Linked DNA regions of Homo sapiens. The protein of the gene in region 2 interacts with the protein of the main gene of each other region in a pairwise test. Each region holds a gene or a part of one and is shown on either strand. Other genes may lie near its edges.

Evidence for each region. The genes of interacting proteins can lie anywhere in the genome.
Region 1: the proteins of CEP44 (region 2) and CBY2 interact in binary tests that used the Homo sapiens proteins (3 or more experiments, as listed by UniProt).
Region 3: the proteins of CEP44 (region 2) and CEP57L1 interact in binary tests that used the Homo sapiens proteins (3 or more experiments, as listed by UniProt).
Region 4: the proteins of CEP44 (region 2) and CCDC185 interact in binary tests that used the Homo sapiens proteins (3 or more experiments, as listed by UniProt).

Annotation. Positions count from the first base shown.
Region 1 is NC_000013.11:45,712,320-45,715,059, reverse strand, and holds the end of CBY2 (protein chibby homolog 2), read right to left. Parts: intron 1,879-2,740; coding exon 688-1,878; 3' UTR 501-687; downstream 1-500.
Region 2 is NC_000004.12:174,286,911-174,290,410, forward strand, and holds part of CEP44 (centrosomal protein of 44 kDa), read left to right. Parts: intron 1-3,500. UniProt on the Homo sapiens protein: Centriole-enriched microtubule-binding protein involved in centriole biogenesis. In collaboration with CEP295 and POC1B, is required for the centriole-to-centrosome conversion by ensuring the formation of bona fide centriole wall.
Region 3 is NC_000006.12:109,098,507-109,102,006, forward strand, and holds part of CEP57L1 (centrosomal protein CEP57L1), read left to right. Parts: intron 1-1,685; exon of another isoform or gene 1,686-1,780; intron 1,781-3,500. UniProt on the Homo sapiens protein: Centrosomal protein which may be required for microtubule attachment to centrosomes.
Region 4 is NC_000001.11:223,392,261-223,395,965, reverse strand, and holds CCDC185 (coiled-coil domain-containing protein 185), read right to left. Parts: upstream 2,552-3,705; 5' UTR 2,491-2,551; coding exon 619-2,490; 3' UTR 501-618; downstream 1-500.

The sequences.
Region 1 (2,740 bases), on a different chromosome or scaffold from region 2:
TCCACACTTGGCGATTCCAACTATATGACATTCTGAAAAAAGCAAAACTATGAAGACTGTAAAAAAGATCAGTGGTGGCCAGAGGCTGGAGGGGGAGGGAGGGATGAACAGGCAGAGCACAGAGGATTTTTAGCGCAATGAAAATACTCTATATGGTACTACATATACTCTATAATACTCTATATGGTACTACAATGGTGGCTACATGTCACTATGCATTTGATCAAACCCACAGAATGTACAACACCAGCAGCAAACCCTAATACAAACTTACGGACTTTGGAATAATTATGTGTCAATGTAGGTTCAAAGACTGTCACTAGTGTACCTCTCTGGAGGGATGGTGATAATGCGGGAGATTATGCATTTGTGGGACGGGAGTCTATGGGAACTCCCTGTACTTTCTGCTCAGTTTAGCTGTGAACCCAAAACTGCTCTAAAATATTGTCTATCTTTTATTAAAAGAAAGAAAGAAAGAAAGAAAGAAAAAGGCAGCATGCTGGTGTCAACTGGCCCCAGCCTCCTCACACCTTTATTAAAACTCTGAGTTTAGGAAGGCTGCTAACGCTGCTTTTCAATAGGTACGAACTGGCTGGGGAAGGCGAGGACGACAAAGGAAGGCAGGGGATTCTCTTTTGCCCAGTGTTCGGTGTCCCAAACTCGGCGTCCCGGTGCAAGGCCGAGGCCTCAGACCCTGCTAGGCTTCTTGGGGTCCTGGCTCCTGGCCGGCATGAAGGCGTAGAGCTCCTCGATGAGCATTTCCATGCGCGCGGTGACCTCGGTCACGGTGTCAATGACCAGCTTCTGCTGCAGCTTCAGCTTGTTGTTCTCCCACAGGGCCTTGTTCTCCTCCTGGAAGCCCCTGTGCTCTGCCCGTAGCACCTGCAGGGTCCTGTTCTCCTCCTGCAGGAGCCGGTTCTCCTTGAGCAGGGCCTGCAGCGCCTGCCTCATCTCTCTCAGCAGCTGCAGGGGCTGGCAGCCGTCGGGCAGGCCCGGGCCCACCTTGGCCTCCTCCTCCCCGGAGGGCCCGGACATGTTGCTGACCATCTTCCGCAGGGCGCGCAGCTCCTTGGAGTCCTCCTGCCGGGCCGGAGGCCCTTTGGGCTCCTCGAAGCGGGAGGAGAGGCCGGAGCCCTGGTCCTGCAGCAGCCCGGGGCTGCAGGGCTCCTCGTGGGGTGAGGGGGCGGGCTTGCTTTCCTCGGCAGGGGCGGCCGTGTCCTCTGCCTGCGCCCAGTAGGCCTGTTTCTGCTCCAGCAGCTGCTGCAGCGCGCGATTCTCCTCCCGGAGGAGCTGCAGGGTGCTGTCCTCCTTGCCACGGGGCACCTGCAGGGCGACGTGGTCCTTCTTCACCACCTCCAGGGACGCGCTGTCTTTGTGCAGCAGTGGCGAGGGGGCCCGGCTCTCCTCTCGGCCCAGCGAGGCCTTGTGCTCCTCCCAGAAGACCTGTAGGATCTTGTTCTCCTTGCTGAGCATCCGGTTCTCCTCGCGCAGGGCCTTGTTCTCCTCCCGCAGAGACTTGTTCTCCTCCTGCAGCATGCACTCCTTGGCCAGCCTCTTGTGGTGCAGCTTGTGGTGGAAGGAGGCGGATGGGGAGAAGTAGGGAGACTGCAGGCGGCAGTTCTCATTTACCCAGCGCCCGTCCTGGAACACGAACATCTCGTCGCTGAGCTGCACCCGCGGCGGGTTGTAGTCCAGCTCCAGGTCGGCCTGGGACATGGGGCGCTCCATGGGGTCTAAAGGCACGGAGGAGAAGCGGTTCAGTGGATAGGAGTGCTGGCTCGCCATCCTGCGGCTCAGCCGGGGCAGGGCGGCCTGCTGCGCGCAGCGAGGGGTGCTGTACAAGTTGTGGAGCCTCGGGAAGGGTTCGGCTGTGCCCCTCTGCGGGAGAGAATGGGAAAGCCCAGCGTTAACGATGGGACTGACACACTTGGGGCTGGCTGACAAAGGGGCCAGGACATCCCCAAATAAGCCCCGTCTGATTGTCTGGCCTGGCCACAGTGGGCGCTTTTGCTTCTTGGGGTCCTCACAAGGAAATGTGGCCTATCCTTGTCATTCCAGTGAGTTCTGTTCTATGAAGTCAGTTCCAATACTGAATTAGCAAATATAGAACCATTGCTCCTACAGGAAATAGAGGGCTATGTTCCTGTGAGCCTGTGGTCACAGTTTTGTCAACCAAGCAATACATAACCTCATTTAGTGCGTATTGTTGATTCATTAACATCAAATTCACGTCAGCAGCACTGTCACGCATGCCCAAACAAAACTTCTCTAACACATGTGTTTTCTCCATGTGGCACAGCATAGCCTTCTTGTGATTGGGAATACTAGACAGCACTTGACTTGGAATGGTACAGAAGCCATTTTTAACAGCAAAATCACCAACAAAATGCACAAGAAGGCAAAACAAAAAAAGTGGCACTAGATAGACTGCGCAATGGACACTATTTTCTAGCCTGAGAGCTGAAACAAGAAGGCTCCTTGGCTGGGGACTCAACTTCACACAACTCAAATTTTCACCTCTCCGTGCATGTCTGAGAATTACCATAAAAGTGCTACAAGTATTGATTTGGTGGATACACATTTTAGCAAGTAGGCAAATTCACAAATATGGAATCCGTGAATAATAAGAAACAGTTATATATTATGGTGGTCAAAGGCATTCATTTTAGAGTCAACCAAATATTTTGAGTCTTTGCCTCACTACTTACCAATTAACAAGAATTTGAGCAAGTTATTTGAG
Region 2 (3,500 bases):
ACCAGTAAGTTTTCCAAAATAATTGTACCATTTACTCTTTCTGTAAAAAGCATAGATATTTTGAATTTCTTGCCTTTTTTTCTGTGTTCACCTTTTCTTCTTGGAAGTAGACAGCTGGCTAACCAGCAGGAGTTTGGGACCGATGACAGTGCAAAACATCTTGACTGACAATGGTGGTGGCTTATTAAAGTGAAGAATCAGCATCAAGAGGGGGAATCGGTGTATTCCTTCTATTTCTAGGCCATTGGGATATAGGTCGTTATGGGACCCCAGGTAGTAACCCAGCTCATTCTGAAATAGAGCTGAGAAATGACAAGGATTAAGTGTTGCTTTTCAGGTAGAGTGCTATTTTGGACCCTTGGCACAGATTTTGGTTCTTTATTATGATAAGTACCAAGAAGGAAAAGAACTGGGTCTATTAGAGAAAATTAATGAGGGGGATTAATTAGTTTGGGATCTAAGACTTATTTGAGGTGGTGACATTTAAGCAGGATGCCGAGGGGTATTAGCCAGATGGAGAATGGGAGAGGGAAGGAGTTGCTCTGTATCTCTTCAAGCTTGAAGAAATGGCATGTGCAAAGGTGTTGAACAGCTTGAGATATCACCAAACATCCTTATCCAGGTCCAGGAACTTTATCCCAGATACCATTTCTGTTATTTGTTGCTTTCTATAATATTTTAAATTAACTAAATCACACACATTCTCTTTTTCATCATTACTTGGTAAGTGGAATGTTTTGATTTTCCCTTCTGGTTATGATTTACATGTATTAACTTATTAATACACGAAGATCAAAAAGTGACCAAAATTGTTCAAAAGGTACAATTTATTATAGGATAATTATAATTATTTCATGCTGACAATATGTTTATAAGTGTTTTGCAGTAACCTTTTTGTTTCTATAATTTCATGGTAAGAAAGAAAATGAATTAGGTAGAGCTAGTAATACCAGGTATAGACAAGAATGTAGTATTTAAAGCTAATATCTGAAATTCTCTTCTTGCATCTGCTAACTGAACGAGAAAATTCTGTGTGTGAGAATGGAAAACTTTGGGTGAAAAGTGAAAACTTGGATTTTGTAGTCCAGGCCCTTAATTAAGTAGATAACACACTCAGAAGGAGAAAATTTGGGGTGCTTTATATACAAAGGGACTATTTTTAGAGGTGTGTGTACAGGGATCTGGTGCTGCTTCATTTTTTAACCTGTTTATTGCGGTATGATTGACATACAGAAAGCTATAGACATTTAATGTATACAGTTTCTGTTTGGAGATAAGTAGATATTGTGAAACCATCCAACCATTATTACTACAAGAAATCAATGCCATCACCTTGAAAAGTTTCCTTCTACTCATCTTTTTTTCACGTTTTGTGATAAGAGCACTTAACATTAGATCTAACTTCTTAGCAAAATTTTAAGAATACAATATTGCTAATCACAGACACTGGGTTGTACCTGCAGATCTTATTTATTTTGCCTAACTGAAACTTTGTACCCTTTGAACAACAGCTTCCCATTTTGTTCTCCCCATGTTCCCTTACAACCACCATTCTATTCTCTGCTTGCATGTATTTGACTATTTTAGATTTCACATACATTGAGATAATACAGTATTTGTCTTTTTGTGTTTAGCTTATTTCACTTAGCATAATGTCCTTCAGGTTCATCCATGTTGTTGCAAATGGCAGGATTTCCTTCTTTTTTAAAGGCAAATTTGTTTATTCTCACATTTTTGTTGGGGTCCCTAAGGTTTTCTACATCTAAGATCATGTCATCTGCAAACAGATATTGTACCTCTTCTCTTTTTATTTGGATGTTTTTAATTTATTTTTCTTACCTAGTTATTCTGGCTAGGACTTAAAATACTACGCTGAATAGGAGAGGCTAAAGTAGGCAACCTTGCCTTGTTCCTCATCTTATGGGGAAAGCTTTCAGTTTTTTATCTTTAAGTATCTTAGCTGTGGGCTTCTCATAAATGGACTTTATTTTGTTTTTCCTTTACCTAATTTGCTATAAGGTTCTTCCATACCTAGTTTATTGGGAGTTTTTATCACAAAAGAGTATCGAATTTTGTCAAGTGCTTTTTCTGCATCTGTGCAGATGCCCATGTGAGTTTTATCCTTCATTCTATTAATGCAGTATATTACATTGGTTGGTTGTCATATGTTGAACCATCCTTGCATCACAATGAAAAATCCTACTTGGTCATGGTATATGATTCTTTTAATGTGCTGTTGTGTTTGGTTTGCTAACATTTCATTGAGGATTTTTACGTCTATATTCATCAAATGTATTAGACTGTAGTTTTCTTGTAGTGTATTTGTCTGGCTTTGGTATCAGGGTGATGCAGGCCTCAGAATGACTTTGGAAGTGTTCCCTCTTCTTTTTTTTTTTTTTTTAGATATGTTTAATAAGGTTTTGTATTAATTTTTCTTTAAATGTTTGCTAGAATGTATCTGGCTCTTGGCTTTTCTTTGTTGGGAATTTTTTGATTATTCCATCAATCTCCTTTTTTGTTATTTGTCTATTCAAGCATTCTATTTCTTCTTGATTCAGTCTTGGTAAGTTATATTTTTCTAGGAATTTACCCATTTTTTTTTAGATTGTCCAATTTGATGGCATATAATTGTTCATAATAGTCCCTTATGATACTTTTTATATCTGTGGGATCAATTGTGTCCTCTTTCATTTCTGATTTTGTTTGAGTCTTCTATTTTTAAAGTCTAGCCAAGGATTTGTTGATTTAGTTTGTCTTTTCAAAAGAGGAACTTTTAGTTTTGTCAATTTTTAAAATTGTTTTTCAATTTTCTATTTCATTTATTTCTAATCTAATCTTTATTATTTTCTTCCTTCTGCTAATTTTGGATTTAGTTTGTTCTTTTTCTAGTTCCTTGAGGTGTAAAGTTAGGTTGTTTTATTGAGACCTTTTTTTTTTTTTCTTTGAGACAGAGTCTTGCTCTGTCACCAGGCTGGAGTGCAGTGGCGTGATGATCTTGGCTTACTGCAACCTCCGCCTCCCGGGTTCAAGTGATTCTCCTGCCTCAGCCTCCCGAGTAGGTGGGAGTCCCAAGTAGGTGGGACTAGAGCCACGCACCACCATGCTCAGCTAATTTTTGTATTTTTTGTAGAGATGGGGTTTCACCATGTTAGCCAGGATGGTCTCAATCTCTTGACCTAGTGACCCGCCTGCCTCAGCCCCCAAAAGTGCTAGGATTATAGGCGTGAGCCACTGTGTCCTGCCTCTTTCTTCTTCTTAATGAATTTATTGCTATAAACACTTCTCTTATTCTGCTTTTACTGCATCCTATATGTTTGGGTATACTGTGTTTTTATTATTGTTTGTCTTGAGATATTTTATAATTTCTGTTTTGATTTATTCTTTGACCCAGTATTATTTAATAGTATGTTATTTAATTCCCCTGTATTTGTGAATTTTTCCATTTTCTTTCTATTATTGATTTCTAGTTTCATTCCCTCGTGATCAGACAAAATGTTTAG
Region 3 (3,500 bases), on a different chromosome or scaffold from region 2:
TCACTGCATCCTTGAACTCCTGGGCTCAAGTAATCCTCCCACCTCAGTCTCCCAGGTAGTTGGGACTACAGGCACGTGCCAACAAGCCCAGCTAATTTTGTATTTTTTCCTTTTTTTTTTTAACTGAAATTACATAACTGAGATAATTTTTGTCTTTTTGTAGAGACAGGATCTCACTGTGTTGCCCAGGCTGGTCTTGAACTCCTCAAGTGATTGCCTCAAGTGATCCTCCTGCCTCAGCCTCCCAAAGTGCTGAGATTAGAGGCATAACCCACTGCAACTGGCCTGAAGTGAATATTTCTTTTAAATTGTGTTGAGCATAGACCATAGGGAAGCAAGGGTGGAAGCAGAGAGACTGGTTAGGAAACTAAAGTAATAATCCAGGTGACAGAATCTGGATACATTTTGATAGTATAGCCAACAGACTTTGCTGACAGATTGTGTGAGAGTAAGAGTCAAAAATGGCTTCAAAGTTTCTAACCTGAGTAACTAGAATGGAGGAAGTGCCATTTACTATTATGGGAAAATCTGCAGATTTGTGAATGGGAGAGAGAGGAAAGGTTGGTATTTTAGCTTGGCCACGTTAAGTTTGAGATGCCTCTAAGAAATTCACATTGAGATGTGGAGGTGGAGGAGGCAGTTGAATAAATGAGTCCAGAAGTGAGGAGAAAGATCTGGCAATAGATATAATTTTGGATTTTATAGTAGTGTTTTGATAGGAGTTGTTGATATCACCAAAAGTGATATTCTATGGAGTTTGGGTGGATTTGGAGTTCTCTGCAAAGGTGACTGAAGGAGCAGCCAGTGAGCAGAGAAAAACCCACTGTTCAGTAGGTGTTCTAGAAGCAAAATGAAGAAAGTAATTAAGGAGGAAGGAAAAATAAGTTATGTTAAATGTTGCTGTAGGTCAAATGAGATGAGGATTCATAATTGACCAGTACATTTAGCAACATGGAGGTCATTGGGATCTTGATAAGAAACTTTTGGTGGAGTAAAGGGTACAAAAGCCAGATGGGTACTTTTATTTATTTATTTATTTTTATTTATTTATTTATTTTTGAGAAGGAGTTTTTGCTCTTGTTGCCCAGGCTGGAGTGCAGTGGCGCTATCTCGGCTTATTGCAAGCTCCGCCTCCCAGGTTCAAGTGATTCTCCTGCCTCAGCCTCCTGAGTAGCTGGGACTACAGACACCCGCCACCATGCCCGGCTAATTTTTGTATTTTTAGTAGAGACAGGGTTTCACCATGTTGGGCAGGATGGTCTCGATCTCCTGACCTCGTGATCCACCCGCCTCGGCCTCCCAAAGTGCTGGGATTACAGGCGTGAGCCACCGTGCCCAACAATGGGTACTTTTATTTAGTAGAGTATGGGAGACAGCGAGTATGGATGCAGCACTCTTTTACTGTGTTCTTTGTCCAGATTGTTCTAGCCTGTCTTTAACTCCTCTTCTTGCAGGTCTTTGCTCAAATAATCATTTTCTCAGAGGTGTCCCTGATCTAATTAAATACTCTTCTTGTAAATAGACCTATTGCACCGTAAACCTTGAGTTGCTCTTATGTTACCAATTAGTTTTGCAGTTGTGCCATGATTTGATTAAAGTGTGTTTATTTCAGTAGAGCTTAAGCACACAAGAGGAACTACTGTGCTTGTTTTTGTTGATCATCTTATCTCTACCTCTGAGTACAGTGCCTGGTACCTAGTACAAACTTAATAAATGTGTGACGCAAGAATAAAGGAATGAATGAATGGAAGAATGATATAATGCCACAGAACTTTCAAAGGTATGGCATATTTATCTATCATTTACAAAAACACAAAGTAATTAATGGATGGACGAGGGTACATTATAATAAAAACATTTTAGAAAGTTCGTCCTAAAAAAAACAAAGCCGGGCACAGTGGCTTATGCCTATAATCCTAGCACTTTGGGAGGCTGAGGTGGGCCGATCACTTGAGGTCAGGAGTTTGAGACCAGCTCGGCCAAGATGGTGAAACCCCGTCTCTACTGAAAATACAAAAATTAGCCAGGCGTGGTGGTGGGCGCCTGTAATTCCAGCTACTTGGGAGGCTGAGGCAGGAGAATCGCTTGAACCCAGGAGGCAGAGGTTGCAGTGAGCTGAGATCGTTCCATTGCACTCTAGCCTGAGTGACAGAGTGAGATTGTCTCAAAAAAAAAAAAAAAAAAAAGAAGAAAGAAAGAAAGTTTACAGAATCTGTAGCCTAGGAAATGTAATTACTGGTCACATAAAATTTTATTTAATGTGATACAGTTTCACATTGTTTAATTCAGAGTTCTTATATTCATAATGTCTGCTTTTTGGCTGGGCATGGTGGCTCACACCTGTAATCCCAGCACTTTGGGAGGCTGAGGCAGGTGGATCACCTGAGGTCAGAAGTTCGAGACCATCCTGGCCAACATGGTGAAAGTCCATCTCTACTAAAAGTACAAAAATTAGCCAGGCATCATGGCACACGCCTCTAGTCCCAACTACTCAGGAGGCTGAGGCAGGAGAATCGCCTGAGCCTGGGAGGCAGAGGTTGCAGTGAGCCAAGATCGCACCACTGCACTCCAGTCTGGGCGACAGAGTATGACTCTGTCTTAGGAAAAAAACAAAACAAAACAGTCTGCCTTTTTTGCTGCAACATATCAATAGATGTTATGGAATTTAGAAGAACTTCTTTAGATCAGTAAATTTTCACAGTTACATTTTAGAAGAGTAATTAATTAGGGAACAGATATTGAGAGGTTTTGCTAACTTTGGTCATGGACCATGGAATCATGCAGTATGTTGCCTTTTAGACTGGCTCCTTTACTTAGCAATGTGCATTTATAGTTATTTTATGTCTTTATATGTATGGCTTGGGAGCTCATTTGTTTTTATCACTGAAAAATAATCCATTGTATGGATATATCACAGTTTGCTTATTCACCTTTTGAAGGACATCTTAGTTGCTTCCAGTTTTTATCAATTATGAATAAAGTGTCCTAAAAATTTATGTGCAGGCTTTTTCTGGGCAAAAAATTTTTAACTCATCTAGGAATATGATTGCTGGATCTCAGGTAACCCTATGTTTAGCTTTGTAAGAAACTCACAGCTGTTTTTCTTTTTCTTTTTTCTTTTTTTTTTTTTTTGAGACGGAGTCTCACTCTTTCGCACAGGCTGGACTGCAGTGGCGCCATCTCGGCTCACTGCAAACTCCGCTGCCGGGTTCACGCCATTCTCCTGCCTCAGCCTCCTGAGTAGCTGGGATTACAGGCGCCCGCCACCGCGCCCGGCTAATGTTTTGTATTTTTAGTAGAGACGGGGTTTCACCGTGTTAGCCAAGATGGTCTCGATCTCCTGATCTCGTGATCCGCCCGCCTCGGCCTCCCAAAGTGCTGGGATTATAGGCGTGAGCCACCGCGCCCAGCCATACAGCTGTTTTTCAAAGCAGCAGTACCATTTTCTATTTCCCACCAATGAATGAGAGTTCCTGTTGCGCCCCACCTTTGCCAGGATT
Region 4 (3,705 bases), on a different chromosome or scaffold from region 2:
GACTTGGAACCAACCCAAATGTCCAACAATGATAGACTGGATTAAGAAAATGTGGCACATATACACCATGGAATACTATGCAGCCATAAAAAATGATGAGTTCACGTCCTTTGTAGGGACATGGATGAAATTGGAAACCATCATTCTCAGTAAACTATCGCAAGAACAACAAACCAAACACCGCATATTCTCACTCATAGGTGGGAATTGAACAATGAGATCACATGGACACAGGAAGGGGAATATCACACTCTGGGGACTGTGGTGGGGAGGGGGGAGGGGGGAGGGATAGCATTGGGAGATATACCTAATGCTAGATGACGAGTTAGTGGGTGCAGCGCACCAGCATGGCACATGTATACATATGTAACTAACCTGTACAATGTGCACATGTACCCTAAAACTTAAAGTATAATTTAAAAAAACAAAAATTCCCAAAATTTTCTCTCCGACCCTCTAAACTATCCAAGTGAATCAATAAACCAGTTCATGAGAGGAAATTGCAGCTATTTTACATGCTTTTTTAAAATCAATGTTCAATTATAATCAGATTACAAAAGGAATCACATTGCCACATCTCCTTCTGGCTGCGCACTGTAAGCCAGGCGTCCTTGGTTCTCAGTAACCCCTGTTCTGCTGACAGGCACGGAGCTGGGCCTCTAGTACCATCTGATCAAGGGAGCTGTTGGGAGGCGCTCTCTCCTCTCTCCTGGAGGCCTGAGGGAGCTTCTGGAACTCCTGGAAGTTTGGGTCTTTCCCTTGGGAAATGTGCTGCACCCTCTGCTCCTTTTTCTTAATGGCCTCCTTGATGCCCTCAATGTGACACTTTTCCTCCTTCTCGGCTTTCAGTTTCAGGATGTGGTGGTTTTTCTCCCTCAGGTGGTTGAGCTCCCGGAGGTGCTGCACCTTGTCCCTAGTGGTCTTGTGCACGTGACTCCTGGCCTGTCGGATCTTCTCATCCGCCAGCTCCACCAGAATTCTTTTGCGCATCTTCCTCTGTTCCTCTGACTCCCCTGCGCGCCACCTGGCCTGCTGCAACTGCTCTTCCTCCTTCTGGGCCTTCTCCCTCAGCTCGCGTTGCCGCTCCTTCCTCAGGCCCTGGTGTATCTCCTGGGACCGCTGGAAACTTTGTTCCAGGGACAGCTGCCTAAGGAGCTCCTCAGCCTTGGCCTGGCAGTCCATGAGGACCTTCCGGGCCTGGTAATTGATGAGGGAGCTCAGGTTGGTGTCCTGGACCTTCTTCTGGCCCTCCACGGCATGTAGGTGCCTCTTGCGACAGGCTTCCACCAGCCTCCTCTGCAGCTGCAGGCTGTGCTGCTCCCGGAGGTTCCGTAGCATCTTCTCCTGCTCCCGCAGGCGCCGCACCTGGCACTGTTTTCGGTGCTCTGCCTGGGCGCGCGCCTTCTCCAGCTTCTCCTGGCGCGGGCTCTCCTGGTCCTCTGGTTGCTCCTTCCACCGGCTTTCCCCCGGGGGCACGTTCTTCCTCTGGCTGTCCCGCCGCAGGCCGCGCTGCTCAGGGCTCTGGAGGGTCTTGCGCTGCTCCTTCTCCTGCCACTGCTCCTGGCTCTGCCGCAGCAGCAGCCGGCGCTCCCGCTCCAGGGTCATCTGGACCTTCTGATCCGAGCGCTTCAGCTCCTCCCAGGCCTTAGCCGCCTGCTGCTGCAGCTCCCGTATCCTCTGGGCCTTCTTGAGACGGGTCAGCACCAGGGCCACAATCTGCTGGTCCTGGGAGGACACCACCACCTCTTCCAGCTTGCTCTTCAGGACCTGGGTGTGCGGGCTCCGCATCTCTTTGCTGGAGGCCAAGGGCTGGGAGTCCCGGCTGGCTAATGACTCAACCTGGTCGCTGCTGTCTCTCTTCTGGGCGCACACGCAGGCTGAGTGCCTCTTGAACTTTTGCGAGGGCACAGAAGACCGCTCCGAGGGAACTGAGGAAGGGGACCAGCGACCTAGATGTCTGCCGAGTGGCACTGCCCACTGGTCTCCACCCTGTGCCTTTTCTACCCTGAATGTGCCACTCAGGGGAGTGCCAGCTCCTCCGGGGCAAGGCGGGGGCGAGTCTCCCTGGGCCAGAGGGTAATGCGGGCAGGGCTGCGGCCGCTGGGGTGGCAGCTGGGTCTGCGGCTGCCAAGCCGGGCGGGGCTTGGTTCCTGTCTCTCCCCAGGCATCTTCCAGGCGCCTGCTGCGGGGCCGGTGCTTCCTGGAACGTTCCAGGGGCCTGCGGGCCACATCGCTCAGGCTTCGGCTGCCCCGCAGTGAATCTGAGCACCCGCGCCTGCGAGGCCGCGGGGTGAACGAACAGTGCGGGTGCAGCCAGCACGCCCCAGCTTCGCTCTCCGCACCCGGAGTCCCGGCCCGGGAGCACGCGGTGGAGTCGGCTCCGGACCTCTGCCCGCCCAGCCGCTGCGTGGACTCTCGTTCTCCGCCGGGCCGCGGGGGTTCCCAGAGATCCCGGTAGGGCGGCTGGGAGAAGTGGCTGAAGCCTGCCATCCCTCCCTCTGGGCACGCGCAGCGTCTGCCCAAGGGGCCTGAGACCTCCCGAGGACGCTGCAGACACCCGCCCTGCCCCCCGGTCCCGAGGTCCGGGTCGCCTGTGACGCTCGGGCCACTTCACAATGCGCCTGGCAGCTGGGTCCTCGCAGTCTTCAGACCTTGCCCGGCGCCGCCCACCCCAGCTTTGCTAGCACCCGGAGCACCTGGAATGGGAAGGACAGGAGGCTGGGGATGGGGGTGGTGGGGGTCGGGTGGGGGAGAGAGGGGTTGTATGTTGGAGGAGGGAATATGTAGGAAATCAGGGTGACATTTAAAGCTGAGGGTGCATAGTGTCCCCCACCAGTGTTTCAGGGAGAAATTTGAACTCGCATTTGCACACAAACAGCAGGATTTTAAGAGAGCCCAGGTGAAGGCGTCACCCTCAGAATGGAAGGGGTGGGGAGAAGGGCCGGGGTGCAGTCTCAGGGAGGAGGTACCCTTAGCTGCAGAATCACCGTCCTGCACGTGTGTACCTCTGCAATGTGGTCAAATAGAACGGCTGTGGACGCGACACCACCCATTTGCCTTTTAAGTTAGCAAGCCCAAAGTATGCTTTAATGTTTACTTTTTAAGATTTTTAGAAAAGGTAGAAGACGACTCTATTTCCTAATATGGTAATTACTGCTTTTGTCAAAATGTGAATGCTGCGTGCACATTTCTGCAATAGCATTAGTGAACACCATGTTGAAATCACATTTTTTTTTCCCTTTTCCTCCAATTTTGTGGGATTCTCGTTCCTTGTTGAGGCACCCTTGGCTAATGGGAAAAGCACTGGATCTGGTAGAGAAAAAGAATTTGAATCTCCTCTACCACTCTTCACTCATGGGCTCTTGGGCAAATTCCCTAAGTTTCCCTGACCTCCAGTTCCAGCAAGGTGGAATGGGAAGTGGGGCCTCATCATATGGGCATTGCAGGACTGTTGTGAGGGTCAGATGAAATTATGCATCCAGAGGTTGGCACCAGAATACATTCAATAAATATTATTTTGGTGCCATGCTAAGCGTCAGTTAAAAGTTTTAAGGGTTGGGCTGGGTGGTGGCTCATGCCTGTAATCCTAGCATGTTGGGAAGGCAAGGCAGGAGGATTCCTTGAGCCCAGGACTTAGACCAGTCTGGGCAACATAGAGAGATCCTGCTTCTATATAAAAATTTTAAAAATTAGCTGGACATGGTG